3 linked regions of the Homo sapiens genome follow. The protein of the gene in region 3 purifies or fractionates together with the protein of the main gene of each other region. This does not show direct contact. Each region holds a gene or a part of one and is shown on either strand. Other genes may lie near its edges. The genes, in order: STK40, PML and SNX11.

Region 1 (3,649 bases), on a different chromosome or scaffold from region 3:
CAGGCAACCGCCACCACGCCCGGCTAATTTCTGTATTTTTAGTAGAGACAGGGTTTCACCATATTGGCCAGGCTGGTCTCGAACTCCTGACCTTATGATCCCGCCACAGCCTCCCAAAGTGTTGGGATTACAGGCATGAGCCACTGCACCCGGCCTGTGAGTTACTTATTTGTTTCGTGTATTATCTGTCTCATCCCCACTAGAAAGTCAGCTCCATGAAGGCAGCAATGTTTGTCTACTTTGTTCCCTGTTGTCTCCAAAGTGTCTAGAACAGAGCTTTGGGCCTGGGTGGCCCTCAGCAAACAGTAACAGAATGAATGAACACAGACAAGGAGAGAGGGCTCTGAAACACAAACTCACAGCAGCACACTCAGTTAAGAACTGTTCAATGGCTTCCACTCGCACTTGAAGTAAAGGATGACATCTCTTACTGAGGCCTATGTCAGGCCTTGCCTGATCTGGCCCCTGCGCACCTCTCTGGCTTCCCCTTGAACCAGGCTCACTTTCTGAGCAGCCTGCAATTGCTCCAACGTGCTGTGCTGCCTCTGGGACCCTCAGCCTCAGCCTAGTCACACATACCCAGGGAATTCCTAGTTTCCCTTAAGATCATAGCTCAACTGTCACACCTTGTGGGGAAAGTCCTCCAAGCACCCTTCATCCACTCTCACAGCAATCCCGTTCCTCCCTAGCACTAACCTCAGAGGAATTAAACATGCATTCATGTTATCATTACGTCTTCCACCTCCAACAGACCAAACATTTTGTATGGGGAGGGACAGTACTGGTCTGGGCCCCCAGTGAAGCCCCAGCACCTTGCCCAGGGCCTGCCCACAAATTTGCTGAGTGGACTGTCACAGAGCCTGGCTGTATTGAGCTTAGAGGCCCAATGTCTGGCACACACACGTACCGCTGAGCACGTCGGGACTGATGTAGGCAGGGCTCCCTCTCTGGTCCTTCAGCAGGTCCCCCTCGCTCACCAGATGCTTCCCGAGGCAGAAGTTGGTGATGGTTATCCGATGTGTCCTAGGAGTGGGAGACAGAGTGAACAAACCTCAGTGTCTATAGCAACAGGCACAAGACACGCAGGCAGGACACACCTCACTGGGCCAACACCCAATCCTGAACAGTAGGAGGTAGGCTTCTCGTCAGAGGGTGAAGCAGCTGCCCCGACCCCCTCTCCAGGGAGCAGAGCAGAGGAATCAGGCCCCAGACTTTTCTGGCCACCAGCCGAGCTGTCCCAGCAGGGATCGGCTTCTCTCCCAGGTATCTGAGTGTTGCACAGGCCATCCCTGGACCTGCTGCCCGGGCTGAATCTCGGGGTACAGCTTAGGGCTTAGAACAACTTTCAGAGATTTCTCAAAAACAGCCTCACGTAATATTCTAGACTGGGAGTGACCTGAGATTTAGTTCAATTTCCTCATTCACACATGAGGAAAAGGAAGTCCAGCAGAGGTGAGTGACTCCACCTTGGAAGGTGACCCAAGGGCTGGCCCCGAGCCACCTCCGAACCACGGAATATGTCAGTTCTCACTTGGCCCCACAACCACTGCAGAGGAAGAAACTGACAGTGGCCAATGAGGGGGATTTTCTCACGGTCCTGTTTCAGATGATACAACAAAGGCACAGGGAAGTGAAAGGACTTGGCCAAGGTCATGCAGCTGGTGAGCAGAAGAGCAGGATCCAAGACCAGGTCTGCAGGGCCCCAGAGCTGCACACACAACTGACAGCTGCCTCATGCCCAGATGTGTCCCTGGGCAGGGCCCCAGGCCCCGAATGACTTTTCCTTCTGTTCCATCAAAGCTGACTCATCCCTTACCTCGTACTTGTGACTCTGCCCTGGCTAGAACATCACAGACCCTCCCTCTGAAAGGCGTGGGGCAGGGCAGCTTTGGGCTCTGATCCTTTGGAGAAAACTCACATGTGGACAAAAGGAAGTGCCCCGAGAGGACCCTTACACCTTACACCACACTGGGGGCTGGGAGGGTGGGCAGGCCCTGTCTAAGAGGCCTGGGAAAGGTTTCCTGGCCCACTGGGGCAGGCAGTGAGGAAGGATGCCTCTCTACCCAACTGCCCTGCTCCTGTGTCGGCTGGCTGGGTGGAGAAGCTAGGGGGAGAAGCTGGGAGGACAACAGGAAGGAGAGCTCCATGGGGGCCTTGGGCTGCCTCTCCCTACAATCAGCTCTCAGAGGCAGAGGGCATGTGTGGCTGCTGGCGGATTTCCCCGGGAGCCGCATCCAGGCGGCTCTGAGAGCCCTCGGTGATCTCGGGGAATTCTGCTGGCAAAGGGCTCGATGCAAAACAAAGGCCAGCCCGTCCTCTGGATTCCCCACGGAAACGCCAACTCCAGCGCCTATACAGGTCCGCCCTGTCAGCTGCCATAGGAGTCTGACTGGTGGCCCGCAGGCGGCTAGAGCCTGATCGCACAGGTGAAGGGTCACTGCAAAGGGTCACTTGCACGTCAAGGAGTGGGCTGCTCTAGCTCTGAAGCTCCAGTGCCGCTGCCCTGAATATGGGGCTGCTCGGGCCTCTTGTCCAGAAGGTTCCCACAGAGCAGAGGCACTGTGGGTTTTCTCCCCTGGTCAGAGATGGCCGCGGAAGCTGCAAATGCATCCTGTGGGTCTCTGAGGCTCAAGACGCTGAGAGGAGGACAGCTCAGGAGAAAGTACGGTGGGTTTGGGAGCCAGGTTCCTAGTCCTGGCTCTGCCACTTCCTTGCTCTGTGAATCTCTTGCTAAACCTCAATTTCCTCATGCGTACAACAGTGAAATCCCAGCACCAAACTCCAGAACTGGGTTAGGATTCAGCAAGATAAGATAATCTCATGGAGGGCACTTAGCCCAATGCCTGGCAAATAGTAGAAGCTGGTGTCCTCTCATCTCCGATGGTTGGCACACCTGGTAGGAAAAGACTCTGTCTTGGAGGCGGTAGGGGAGAGGTGCCATGGTGTGACAACAGGCCCCGGAGAGCACATGCCAGTGTGGCTGAGCTTTCAACTCAACACTGCTGGTGGGACTTTCCCACCCTCTGCCAGGGCACGGGCAGGCACAGCTGAGGCTCTGCAGGGCTGAGCGGCAGGCGCACTGGAGTCTCTCCACAGGAAGTGGCACGGGCAGCTCCAAGTCCTCCTGAGGTTTGGCAACACTCCCCTGCCCTGCCACCACCACCCAAGTGGGGGGTGCATGGCTCCCCGGGAGTCCCAGACCCCCTAGTCTGGTCCTGACAGGAGGGGGCAATGGCAGAGTGGGACGGAGGGAGGGGACGTGTGTCAGTAGGATCGGCTCTGAGTGAGTCACGCTTTAGCTATGGCCCTCTGGGCTGCCACAGTGTTTTTCTCCTTTTCTAGGAACTTGGTATGTTGCTTGCCTACCAAAAAGAAAGGAGGAAGGAAAAAGACCCCACAGCACCTCACATAACCCCAGAAGAGGATTTCGAATTTCGATCCTTTTAAAATCCAAAGCGGGGTGAACTTGTTGTTGCAGCTGCCTTGCCAACACCTCCCCCTGTCTGCTCCTTGAGAGCTCTCTGCTCTGCTGAGAAGGCCTCCAGCTGGTCCGCCTACTGCTCCAGTGGAGTTATAGCCTGGCATGATGGGTGGGAAGGGGCTGGAGTGGGCTGGAGCTCCTTCAGGTCAACTGAACGAGGTGAGAGTG
Region 2 (3,649 bases), on a different chromosome or scaffold from region 3:
GGTGCAGCCTGGGCCTCAGTTTTTTCTTAAAGCTATGAATGCCTAACCAAAGTCAAGAACCACTGAATCGGGGGATTCATTGCATGTCTGTGGTAGAGGAATGCTGCTCATTTGTTTATAGATGTGGCAGTCTTGAATGCAGGTGACATTTTCATACCAGGGTGTAATACCGCAGAGGAGGGGAGAGGCTGGATCTTCCCTGATGTACCTCCTGGACTTTTGGAGTGTGATTACAATGCCAATCCAGCCACTTCCTCTGAGCATGCTTGGGACGACTGTTAGACCTGCTGTGTTGAGTTAGAATGCACTTGACCTGCTCAGGCCGTGAAATCTATGAGGAAGGGGAGTGAGATGGATGTAGCTCATGAGCCAGATTGCAGGTGTATCCAAGTTGCATGTATATCCTGAAAAAATCCTGGCTCTCACGAGGCTCAGCCTGAACACAGTTTTGCATTCAAAGAAACAATGTCCATTAACCAAGTATAATAAAGAAATAAATCCCAGTATTTACTTGCATCTTTTGAAAGAACATTAAAGGGAATCCAGCTCATAACCCCAGCAGCACTTCTTCAGTCCTTCTTCCCCTTTTCTTTGGCGCCTGGCATCTCTCACTGCATAGCAAAGCTTTCCCCCTTGATTCCCGGTCCTCACACGCAGGCTCAAGGCTCTGTTTCCCATCTTCTTTCTTCTGTCCCCCTTCCTTTTCTCTTCCAAGCAAATCTAAGTCTTTTCCAGTGACTGTCCCTCTCTATGCTCCCCCGACACCCAGTTATCCTAATTTGCGGAATAAGGCCAAGGTGTGGGGCCTGGGGGCAGAATGGGAGAGTCTCCCCTAGTGAGCAGGGAGGGGAGTATGTTCTGCACCAGGCCACTATGTCTGATGGCCCTGCTGGCAAACCTGAGTCTTTCAGAAAGTCTTGTTTAAATGCGTCAGCACTCCCCAGCTGTGATGCTGGAGTTTAAGGCGGAGCAGGGGAGAATTCTGGGTTTACAGCTGGCTGGAGTTCCAGTGAGACCAGCTCCATGGGTGGCCATACTTTATGGAAGTCCCCAAGGGCAAGAGGAATTTTGGAGGAAGTGAGTCAGGGCTGAAAGGTCCAGCCTCTCCTCCATTAACAAGCTTGGTGGAAAGGGGGTGTCCTTTTATTAAAGGAGACAGTAGAGGTTTCTTAGAGAAGGCAGCTCGAGTAAGTTTAGGACAAAGGACATTTCCCTGGCCCCGGGACAATGGAAGGCTCTAAAAACGAGGTTCTAGTGGCTGCCATAAATGACCCTGCTGTAACGATGGGAGGGGTGGCCTAAAGAGACAGTACTGTGGCTCTCCAGGGAGCTCTCCTCTTGGAAGAGCAGATCTGAAGGCGGGAAGACTGGTTCTAAGGCCGAGGACATTGCCCCGAGCTTTGTGGAGGCACTCAGGAACACAAAGGGGCATTTCCAGTTGGGTTTGGAGCAGGAAGAAGAACGAAAAAGAGAAAGTCCTGTGTGCCATGTCAGTGGGTGGCAGCATGGACTCAGCCTCAGCTATTGGCACCAAGGATCTGAACCAGGGAGGACCCAGAAGGGGAGCCCAGCCCCTCCACCAGCTTGTGGGAGAGCGCTGCTGCCCAGTGAAGCCTGGAGAGAGGAAACAACTGGATTCTCCCAAAGCGGGAGAAGGTGGAGTCTCCAGCCACCCAGCTACAAGCTAGGAAGACGCCTTGTAGAAGGCTCCTTACAGGGAGGAAACCGAGTTGGAAAGGCGAGACAGCAGTGTGGGCTCACCCGGAGCAAGACGTGTGAAATCAGCTTTTGACAGCGTGGCTGAATGAGGATCTGGAGATGCGAGGCGCTGGGCAGACTCTCTGACTAGATCCCTGGATATGAAGAGGCAAAGCCAGCTCTAGATGGATTCATAGTGAGTGTCTGCTTCTGACAATAACTGGCAGAAAGCTGATGAGCCTGGAGCAGGGCTGTGAAATGCAAATCCAGTGAAATCCAGCCACTCCTACAAAAACCCACCACATCTTAGGTTACTTGTGGGTGGAAACGCTTTTTCTCTCAGTTGAAGCTTGGTTGGAAGCAGATGTTTCACTTGGGCATTGGAAGGGTCTGGGGAAATGTGCTGCCTCCTAGGCCAGGGACATTAGCCAGAGGCCAGAATTAACTGAGGCTTTAGCACCAGGTGACACCAACTTCATTGAGAAGCCAGCGGCAGTCCATAAAGAGGAAAAACCCAAGGCCTGCCCTGGACTCTGTCCCAGCCATGCTCCCAATTGGCCCTGTGATCCTGTCCATGTCTCTTCCTTGCTGGTCTCTGGCTAACGTCCACAGGTGGCATTCATGGGAGGTTCCAAGTTGGTCATCAAAGACTAAACATCTGGGCTTGGCAGCTGAGCAGATGATAAGCAATTAACTCTGTATTACCATCAGAGGCTCCACCTCCCTCTGTAGTCCCAGTCCCTTGGGAAAATCTCAGAGCTGGAGCCCTTCCCTCATCCTCTGGCTCCCCACCCCATGGCTTCTCGAACAGTGTTCCCACCAGGACCTTGGGACAGGAGAGAACGCCTCACCTGAAGGACTCCCAAAACTCAGGTTTCTCTAAGCTGCTGGGGCAGATGCCAAGAGCCTCCACTGCTCTCTCACTGCCAAGGACCTGGGTGTCCACCTAGATGTGGCCTTCAGGAGGCCAAGCAGTCCTTCCCCTCGCCTTTGTGTAGGACACTGGCACCTCGGCTGACTTCGGGGACAAGAAAAGGCAGGCTCCCGACCCCTTCCAAAGAATCATCTGGGGTTCAAGATGAGGCTTCTTTCTCCCGTCCCAAGTTTTGGTGTTTCTTCTGAGTCTGCTCAGAAAGATGAAATTAGGAGCAGACATCTCAGGTCCTGCCTGCCATAGCAGATGGCTCCTTCCCTGAGCCTCCATAAGCAGCACAGCACACTCATGCACACACCCACTGGCATTTTCTCTCACACTTTCATACACTTGTGTCAACGCAGGTTCACAGCTCACACTTAACTGTGCATGCACACACAGATTTAGCACTTGGATTCATTCCCACACATGCACGTTCACAACCTGTGTGTGTCACCCTTCCTCCCCTACTCATGAGGGTGTATGCCCTGGTTCATACATGTAACCCTCACATGTGACACACCCAGTTCACACCCATTCATGCACACATACCTTCTCTTGTGCACACGTCCCCTTTCCCAGTGGTACACCCTCCTTCATGTGCACGCAGATGCTCCCAGCTATACCAGCTTGCTAGTGTTCTGCACAGGTGCTTGCCTTGGCCCTCTGAATCCCTGACGCTTGGTTTTTCTGTGTTGCAGTCCTCCCGAGAGCTGGATGACAGCAGCAGTGAGTCCAGTGACCTCCAGCTGGAAGGCCCCAGCACCCTCAGGGTCCTGGACGAGAACCTTGCTGACCCCCAAGCAGAAGACAGACCTCTGGTTTTCTTTGACCTCAAGATTGACAATGAAAGTGGGTTCTCCTGGGGCTACCCCCACCCCTTTCTAATTTAGTCTCTGAGTCCCAAAAAGAAGTGCAGGCAGAGCCATCTGCCAGGCCCAGGAGAGCTCTGAGCTCTGGCCAACAACTGCAGCCAGGCTGGGCAGAGCACTCCGGCTCACCTGGGCTCCTGGCGTGTCATTTGCTGGCTTGAATAAA
Region 3 (3,317 bases):
GAGCCTGTTCTGACTCAGGAGGCTGCCCGATTAAAAAAAAAAAAAATGGCTGGGCATGGTGAATTATTTGAGTCTGGGAGGTGGAGACCAACCTGGGTAACCTGGTGAAACCCTATCTCAATTTAAAAAAATAAAAAAGAGGCCGGGCGTGGTGGCTCACGCCTGTAATCCCAGCACTTTGGGAGACCGAGGTGGGCAGATCACGAGGTCAGGAGATGGAGGCCATCCTGGCTAACACGGTGAAACCCCGTCTCTACTAAAAATACAAAAAAAATTAGCCGGGCATGGTGGCGGGCGCCTGTAGTCCCAGCTACTCGGGAGGCTGAGGCAGGAGAATGGTGTGAACCCGGGAGGCAGAGCTTGCAGTGAGCTGAATCGTGCCACTGCACTCCAGCCTGGGCAACAGAGCAAGACTCCATCTCAAAAAAAAAAAAAAAAAAAAGGCCAGGTGCGATGGCTCACACCTGTAATCCCAGCACTTTGGGAGGCTGAAACGGGTGGATCACCTGAGGTCAGGAGTTCGAGACCAGCCTGGCCAACATGGTGAAACCCTATCTCTACTAAAAATACAAAAACTTAGCTGGGTGTGGTGGCAGGTGCCTGTAATCCCAGCTACTAGGGAGGCTGAGGCAGAAGAGTTGCTTGAACCTGGGAGGCGGAGGTTGCAGTGAGCCGAGATCATGCCACTGCATTCCAGCCTGGGTAACAGAGCAAGACTCTGTCTCAAAAAAAAAAAAAAAAAAAAAAACAGATAAATGCAAGTGAATGGATAAACAAAATGTGGTATATAGCACCATATAAATGGACTGCTATTTAGCCATAAAAATGGGGGAAAAAAAGAGAAAAAAACAGTAATGAAGTAATGACACATGATAAAATACAAATGAACCTTGAAAACATTGTTAGATGAAAAAAGCCAGTTACAAAAGACCACAAATCATATGACTCCATTTGTGTAAATGTCCAAAATAGACAAATGCATAGACAGAGAAAGTAGACTAGTGGTTGCCAGGAGCTGGGGGGGAGGGAAGGACAGGGGAGTCACTACTCATGGGTACAGGGTTTCTTTCGGGGTGATGAAAATGTTCTAAAATTGACTGTGGTGGCTGACAGTTATACAACCCTGTGACTATATTAAAAACTACTGAACTGTATCTAAAAAGGTAAACTTTATGGCAGGTAAATTGTGTGTCAATAAAGCTATTAGGCCAGGCTTATGCCAATAATCCTAGCACTTTGGGAGGCAGAGGCAGGCGGATCACCTAAGGTCAGGTGTTTGAGACCAGCCTGGCCAACATGGCAAAATCCCGTCTCTACTAAAAATACAAAACTTAGCCAGGTGTGGTGGCACTTGCCTGTAATCCCAGCTACTCAGGAAGCTGAGGCAGGAGAATCGCTTGAACCCAGGAGGCAGAGGTTGCAGTGAGCCGAGATCACGCCACTGCACTCCAGCCTGGGTGAAAGAGTGAGCGTCCGTCTCCACACAAAAAAATAAATAAATAAAAAGGGAGGGAGGAGGAATAAAAAACCGAATAAATGAGAAAGCTTTCCCTTCTTTCTCCCCAGGTTTCAGTAGGAGCCCCTGCTACCCAGTGGTGGGTTAACACAGACCCACCTGGATAGAAAGCCACGCACCCAAAGAACAAGAAAGGTTGTGAAAGGCTACCAATGCTATGACATTACTTTCCCTAACAAATGGACACCTCTCTGGTCCAGGTTATAGCAAACCTAGCCCCTGCTATCTCAAAGAGTACTCCAGTTACCTCTTAGGCTGGTCTCCTTTAGCCAGGTGAGAAGAGCTCTGCCTCTCTTCCTGGGCCCAGCCACAGTTTGACATAGCATATCGAAGAATGGCATCAGACACAGTCATGGTACTTCGGCCCTGGACACAGGCTTCTATCTCAGGCACCGAGAGCTGGCTTTGCAGGAATAGGTGCAACTGGCTGTCTGACAGGAGAACCACACTCTGCAGGACCCTGGGAAAAACACAGGTAGCACAACACAGAGCATCACCCTGAGGAACTGCTCTCCATTCCCCATCCTCTTAAGAACTTCTGGCTACCTGAGCAGGGAGCTCCATCCTGCCTGGCACATTCCTCCACCCCTGCCTCCACCCTTGGTGGCCAGCACCAGCCGTTCTGTCCACTCACTTTTCAAGGAAGTGCTGCAGACCTTGTCGTCGCTTCTCAATGAACTCATCTGAGGTGCCGAAGAAGGTTGACTTCCCAGGAAGTTCAGGAACAGGCCTGTGCAGCCACATGATATAACACCCATGATAAGTGTAACATCTAAGATAGTCATTCCGGCCTCTGATCAAGGAAATCCCTTAAAAAGAGGTCTAATCAATACAAATAGCTTTTTTTTTTTTTTTTGAGATGGAGTCTCGCTCTGTCGCCCAGGCTGAAGTGCAGTGGTACAATCTCGGCTTACTGCAACGTCTGCCTCCCGGGTTCAAGCAGTTCTCTGCCTCAGCCTCCCGAGTAACTGGGATTACAGGTGCAGGCCACCACACCCAGCTAATTTTTTGTATTTTTAATAGAGACGGGGTTTCACCATGTTAGCCAGGATGGTCTTGATCTGACCTCGTGATCCCTGCCTGCCTCGGCCTCCCAAAGTGCTGGGATTACAGGCATGAGCCACCGTGCCTGGCCCCAATTAGCTTTTAATAAGGGGTGGTGCTAACATTGACTGCATGCCAAGTGTCAAGCCAGACTGTGCTAAATGTTTTATAAACATGATTTCATTTAGTCATCCCAAAACCCCGTGAGAAAGATATTAACTCACTTCAGATCAGAGAAGTTAAGTAAATGTCTCACTGTTACACAGCTAATAAGCAGCAAAGCTCATATCAGAACCAGATCTATGACTATAAAACCCATGCTGATACATTATTTTTGTCTGTTTGATTTTAGAGACAAGGTATTGCTTTCCAAGCTGCTCTCTCCAGGTTGCCCAGGCTGGAGTGCAGTAGCATAAACGTGAGCATAGCTCGCCGCAGCCTCAAATTCCTGGGATGAAGTAATCCTCCTGCATCAGCCTCCCAGAATAACTATGACTACCGGTACGTGCCACTGTGTGCACCTAATTTATTTATTTGTTTACTTATGTATCTGTAGAGACAGTATTGCTCTGTTGCCCAGGCTGGTCTCAAACTCCTGGCCTCAAGTGATCCTCCTTCCTTAACCTCCCAAAGCACTGGAATTACATGTGTGAGCCACCAAGCCGAGCCACACTATGTTGTTTATGAAACCCACTCCCAGCTTGGTGCCATGGTTCATGCCTGTAATCCTGGCACTTTGGGAGGCCGAGGTGGGCAG

What was found.
Region 1: the proteins of SNX11 (region 3) and STK40 purify together in Homo sapiens (affinity purification with mass spectrometry; 3 studies listed by BioGRID and IntAct, with this or other methods). This does not show direct contact.
Region 2: the proteins of SNX11 (region 3) and PML purify together in Homo sapiens (affinity purification with mass spectrometry; 4 studies listed by BioGRID and IntAct, with this or other methods). This does not show direct contact.

The regions. Positions count from the first base shown.
Region 1 is NC_000001.11:36,347,793-36,351,441, forward strand, and holds part of STK40 (serine/threonine-protein kinase 40), read right to left. Parts: intron 1,024-3,649; coding exon 908-1,023; intron 1-907. UniProt on the Homo sapiens protein: May be a negative regulator of NF-kappa-B and p53-mediated gene transcription.
Region 2 is NC_000015.10:74,039,677-74,043,325, forward strand, and holds part of PML (protein PML), read left to right. Parts: intron 1-3,312; coding exon 3,313-3,463; coding exon of another isoform or gene 3,464-3,504; exon of another isoform or gene 3,505-3,649.
Region 3 is NC_000017.11:48,117,633-48,120,949, reverse strand, and holds part of SNX11 (sorting nexin-11), read right to left. Parts: intron 2,247-3,317; coding exon 2,151-2,246; intron 1,977-2,150; coding exon 1,764-1,976; intron 1-1,763. UniProt on the Homo sapiens protein: Phosphoinositide-binding protein involved in protein sorting and membrane trafficking in endosomes. Regulates the levels of TRPV3 by promoting its trafficking from the cell membrane to lysosome for degradation.